Linked DNA regions of Homo sapiens. The protein of the gene in region 2 interacts with the protein of the main gene of each other region in a pairwise test. Each region holds a gene or a part of one and is shown on either strand. Other genes may lie near its edges. The genes, in order: H3C10 and CDYL.

The links.
Region 1: the proteins of CDYL (region 2) and H3C10 interact in binary tests that used the Homo sapiens proteins (3 or more experiments, as listed by UniProt).

What each region holds. Positions count from the first base shown.
Region 1 is NC_000006.12:27,808,700-27,811,143, reverse strand, and holds H3C10 (histone H3.1), read right to left. Parts: upstream 1,094-2,444; 5' UTR 1,071-1,093; coding exon 660-1,070; 3' UTR 608-659; downstream 1-607. UniProt on the Homo sapiens protein: Core component of nucleosome. Nucleosomes wrap and compact DNA into chromatin, limiting DNA accessibility to the cellular machineries which require DNA as a template.
Region 2 is NC_000006.12:4,782,673-4,786,502, reverse strand, and holds part of CDYL (chromodomain Y-like protein), read right to left. Parts: intron 1-3,830.

The DNA.
Region 1 (2,444 bases), about 23 Mb from region 2:
TAGCCACTGTCAGCAGAAGTCAGAGAAAACACTTTCTCTCCCACACGTATTTTTACATGGGGCTTCAAAGGGAATGTTCTCTGGCGGGCTTTCTCCAGAAGACTTTTAAACCTCAAACCATCTGTCATTAACTACATTTAAGTGGTTTAAGCAGGCCCAAAATCCGGCTTGAAAAAATTCAAAGAAAACTTAACACTGCTTAGGAACGGGGGGCGGGGAGAGAACGTTTCACTTTAGCCAGCATGAGCTACATTAACCTGAATTTTTCCAACTTCAGTACAACCTTAGTTTTATTTCTGGCGTGTTGGCAAGAAATATACACACACCACAGTACAGGTTAGCAGAAAATTAGAAGCACCATCCGGTCAAAACCGGGCTGCGGAGATGGGAGAGCAATACACGAAGGAACTTTTGGCTACACTCAATGCTTACGGAAAAATGCCGGACATTATTAGATGTTAAGACTCCCAAAATTAGCATTCAAAAAGGGATAGGCTGAGTCTTACGAAACAGATTGTATAACGTCTGGAAATGGGCCCTATCTACTACAGGCAAAACAAGTACCAGGAAGAATTCCTGAGAGAAACAGATCTTTTCAGCGCGCATGTGGGTGGCTCTGAAAAGAGCCTTTGGGTATGTAATCAGTGAGTCCTTGAGACTCAAGCCCTCTCGCCGCGGATACGACGTGCGAGCTGGATGTCCTTGGGCATGATAGTCACCCGCTTGGCGTGGATGGCGCACAGGTTGGTGTCCTCAAAGAGCCCCACCAGGTAGGCCTCGCATGCCTCTTGCAGCGCCATCACCGCGGAGCTCTGGAAGCGCAAGTCGGTCTTGAAGTCCTGCGCGATCTCACGCACCAGACGCTGAAAAGGCAGCTTTCTGATCAGCAGCTCGGTGGACTTCTGGTAGCGGCGAATCTCGCGGAGAGCCACTGTACCAGGCCGATAGCGATGGGGCTTCTTGACACCGCCGGTGGCCGGAGCGCTCTTCCGAGCCGCCTTGGTGGCCAGCTGCTTGCGCGGAGCCTTGCCGCCGGTGGACTTGCGAGCAGTCTGCTTCGTACGCGCCATGCCTTCAGAGCTAGATTCACTTCAGGAGAAAGAGAAAGCTAGCCGCTTATTTATAGTGAGAGTCTGAAGCTGATTGGACAAAAGTATGCTGAAGGCCTACCCAACAGTAACCGGATTGGCGAAGGACTCAAATTTTTGTTGTTCACCTATTCCTCTGACAGACTTAGCAGTTCATGGTCTCCATATTTTATTTTCTATTTTCGCTATACAGTTGTTCACTATACTAGCGATTTCCAGTGGAAATGAGAGCAATATAAGTAATTTACACTTATCTAGGAGAACATTGTAACAAAACAAGGAAAAATTAATTTTTAATATTTTGCTTAATCCAATATAGCCAACATATTTCAATGTTATCGAAATTAAAATTGTTAGGTATTTTACACTTTTTGGCACTGACTTTTCCAAATGCAATGTGTATTTTATATAAAATTCATGCTATGGAATTTCCAATGATCACTATCCACAATTGGCTAGTGGCTGCAATACTGGACAGGACAGCCTTATACACCTGTCCCCTCAATTTTCTATCTTTTGACCACTTAAATTTAAAAAACTTCTATTTTTATAACCAAGAAAAGCTGGTTCGCATGTGAGAAATTCAAGGCCAAAAAATGTCAAAGAAACAACTTTATGTGAACTTTTCACTTTTAGATTAAAGTAATTCCATTGCAGCTTATTTTTCCAATACTCTAGAAATGTAATTCATTTTCTTTTAAGAATCTATTCCATTCGTACATCCAGATCTGATTCAGATTAAAAACATCAAGTCAGATATTTTAAAAGTGGAATTTACCATGCTGAAACAAATTAAGTCATCTCTGTACTAAGAAATCAATTTGTGTGGCTGGGGGTGGGAAAGCTCGGGAAATTTTAATTTCAATGAATTTTCAGAAAATGCTTCAAAGAGAACTACCTGGCACCATAAGTAACTGTTCTAATTAGTCTAATAATTATTCTCAACTCAATCATTAATGTTCAAATGCAATTAATTATACAGATTCGAGAGATATTTCTCAGAAATGAAGAATCCAAGTCGTTGATCTAGATTTGGATTGAACGTCGAATGCCCGGTTTGTTATTTACCAAGACCCAGAAAACATCTGGCCCCAAAGCAGACATGTTTGCTTCAACAGACTAAAAGTAAAACCCGACGGTGAACCATACAGAATTCAACATACTTGGATAATGCCAGCTTAGGAAAAACTAAATTTTCTTCCACTAAGCTTAAGATGAAGGCGTGTTTAATACTTTTAATGTTATCCAGGCTTTTTATAAAGCTAACGAGATTGTCACTACCTAACCAAGACACCGAAGACTGATCTACGTAACCTTTGGAGTGGTTTAGAAGTAGGCAAAGACGAGAAATTACAT
Region 2 (3,830 bases):
TAATTCAAATCTTATTTACATTTCACCAGATCAGCTAATGCCTCCTTTACCCGGCATCATTATGGAAGGTAACACAGTCCGTCTCTGCTTCTGAAGCCAGAGTACACACACACAGCAAGAGACCAAGGGCACACAGGGCCACTAATCCACAGCTCAGCTTCCTGAAACATCAGCCTAAATCAAGGATCTCTGGAGAAGAGCTCCTTGGTAAATATGTTTAAAATATTTCATATTGAATCCCAAAAATTGTATGGACTACATGGTTAATATCATAAAACATGTAAGGTAACTTGAGATTTCAAACAACAGGTCAGGCTTGCAAAGGCCATTTCCTCCTCCCTCCCACCTCCACCTCCTTAGGAGAATTCCTGCTGACTCCTCTGCCGTCTGGAGAACTTGGGTGGAAATGACCATAAAATTTATGTTTAAGTTTACCATAAAAGTAGACTTAATTTTTTCGCTTACACTTACATAGCAACACTTTTTAAAAACTCTTCTTGATAGCTCTTTGCAACATATGCCTTTTCTTTCATAAGCATGCCCTTCACTTGCTCTAAGGGGCGCAGGACTGGCCCCACGGAGCCTGTCACCTCAAGACTTGGAGTGCCATCACCAGCTACCCTCTTCAGCGAACTTCATGAACAAACTTATTAACGTCAATTCACCTGCCTCTGGCAGAGCCTTTTCCTTTACCAAATAACCTGTTTCTAACATGCTAAAGGTGCCAGTCAAGTCCAAGTACATAATGCCTAAAGGAAATGTCAACAGTCTCCAAGAGAGACCCAGAGCTGTTGTCCAGTGTGCATGGGGTGGTGCATCTTTTTGCAAACTAAGATGACTTTTTTTGTCCTGGTTCTGAGATACACTAAAGAGCTGGGATATCCACATTAGTTACATGCTATTAATAAAATAAGAAAAGCTTCTGTGTGCAACTATGTGATGCCTTGAATTCCTAAACAGTAAACTACTAATGAAAAATGGGTACAAGTGAAAAACGGATACATTTTAACCAAAGAACATTCATGATGTGCAGTCAACATTGTTGGGTTTTAACAACAAACACTAGGAAGCTACCAACAAAGAAAACTTCACATAGCAGAGAGCCTACTACAAATGGAAATAAGACAAAAAGTAAATAAAAGACATTCTCTAGATATATTGAAGCTAACCTCTCCACAAAAAAGAAAGTATACTATACGGTCACACGTTGCTTAACTACAGTGATATGTTCTCAGAAATGCGTTGTTAGGCAATTTCACTGCTGTGCGAACCTCACAGAGTGAACTTACACAAACATCAATGTTGTAGCCTACTACACACCTAGGCTGTATGGTAGAGCCTATTGCTTCCAGGCTACAGACCTGTACAGATGTTACTGTACTGAACACTGTAGGCAATTTTAACACAATAGTGAGGACTTGTGTATTAGTCCATTCTCACATTGCTAATAAAGACATACCCGAGACCGGGTAATTTATAAAGGAAACGAGTTTAATTAACTCAGTTCCACATGGCTGGGGGGGCCTCACAATCATGGAGGAAGGTGAATGAGGAGCAAGGTCACACGTTACATGGTGGCAGGCAAGAGAGCTTGTGCAGGGGAACTCCTTTTTATCAAACCATGAGATCTCATGAGACTCACTATCAGGAGAACAGCAAGGGAAAGATCCACCCCACGATTCAACTACCTCCCACAGGGTCCCTCCCATGGTACGTGGGAATTATGGGAGCTACAATTCCAAATGAGATCTGGGTGAGGACACAGCCAAACCATATCAACTTGTGTATCTAAACATAGAAAAGGTACAGTAAAAATGTGGTATTATAATCTTACGGGACCACCATCGTAAGACCAAAGTATCATTATGTGGTACAAGACTATATATCAAGGCATGCCGAACAAAGACATTGAACATTTTGCTTCAGAAGCAATTGCGTTATAACTATTATAATCCATTTTCATAAACAGTCCTCTTGAAAACTACTGTTTTGCATTTTCAATATCATCAGGTAAATCTCAAGTGTTGGTTCAAAGCCTCAATCCCTGCTCATGTCACAAATTCCAAATCAAGAAGGTTTCTTCAGATTCTGGCAATAAAGCAAACATGACTCCAAAGGGCCCTCTCATTACAAATTAACTAGATCTTTAATAAAATATAACTCTCATTAACAGTGATACCATATAGCAATTGTAGGAAACAAGGAAAATATCCCAGCTGCCTCAGTAACTGCCCCCAACCCAAAATAATGACTAAATCATAAAATGGACAAACACCAAAGACTTAAAAAACGAATTGCAGATTAGGTAAAAACTCCCCAGAATATTTCGAAGTAAAAAATGTAATTATTGAAAATTAAAACTCAATGGTTGAATAAAACAGCAGATTAAACACAGCTCATTAGTGAACTATAGTTTAGATCCAAGGAAATAGCTAAAATGCAGCACATAAAAAGAAAACAAAACACAAACAAGGAGATGGAAATGAAAAGGTAAAAGACAAAGAAGAGAGAATGAAATGATCTGATAGATGTCTACTTGGAATTCCTGACGAGTACAGAGAAGGAGTATTTGAAGACAAACTGGCCAAATCCATTTTCGAGCTGATGAGGCACAAATCCAAAAAGCAGCACAACATATACCCACCTAACTAATAAAAAATCACACAAAATACATTGTCGTATTAAACAAGAGGAAACCAAAGTCAAAGAGATGATCTCAAGAACAACCAGAGACAGAAGACAGATCTCCTATAAAGTGACTGCACCTATGCTGACAACAGTCTTGGCCAGGTGCAGTGTGGCTCACACCTGTAATCCAAGCACTCTGGGAGGCTGAGGCGGGTGGATCACTTGATGTCAGGAGTTCGAGACTAGCCTGACCAACATGGTGAAACCCCATCTCTACTAAAAATACAAAAAATAGCCAGGCATGGTGGTGCATGCCCATAATCCCAGCTACTTGAAAGGCTGAGGCAGGAGAATCACTTGAACCAGTGAGGCAGAGGCTACAGTAAGCCAAGATCATGCCACTGCACTCCAGCCTGGGCGACAAGAGTGAAACGCCACCTCAAAAAAAAAAAAAAAAGTCTCAAGAATAGTGCAAAGGCAAGGCAGAAGACAATGGAGCACCATCTTCAGAAGGAGCTGAAAGAAATTAACCAATTAACTGGTTTTATTTGAAATACTATTCTCTTTCAAAAAATGATGGCAAAATAAAGACATGTCCAGATAATAATAATTAAAAAAAAAAAACCTAGAAACTTTTCCATCCATAGTCCCTCACTAAAGAAATCTCTAAAGGATACACTTAAGAAAAAAAAAAATCCCAGAAGGAAGTTCTGAGATAGAAGATGGACGATCTGATTGAAGAAACTATGAAGTCAGAGGTGAATCTAAAGAAAGGTTGTATAAAATAATAATGTTCTATTTGATGAGGGATTTTTTCATGGGCAATAAGAAAGCAGTAGCATGTGAGTTCAGGAATGCACCAGGGTTCAAGGAATGTAAAATCTTTACATTGTCAGAAGTGCCATTAAATACTGACTATCTTTAGACATCATGTATGCATAGCTGCAAAATTAGCCACTTAAAGACTAGAAATAGCATACAACTTCTAAACCCAATCAGTGAGGTTTTAATATGGTTTTACTGTAATTTGTGGCAGAGGACAGTTCAACAAAAATAATGTCAAAGTGGTCCGTGGAGGGCAGCCACAGATAAGTCTTAGTTCAAAGGTCTCGATGCAGTTTTTAATACTTGCTTTGGGTCCTATATCCCTCTGAGAATCAGATGAAAGCTCTTGATTCTCTCCCTCTGAAATATGCTCATAT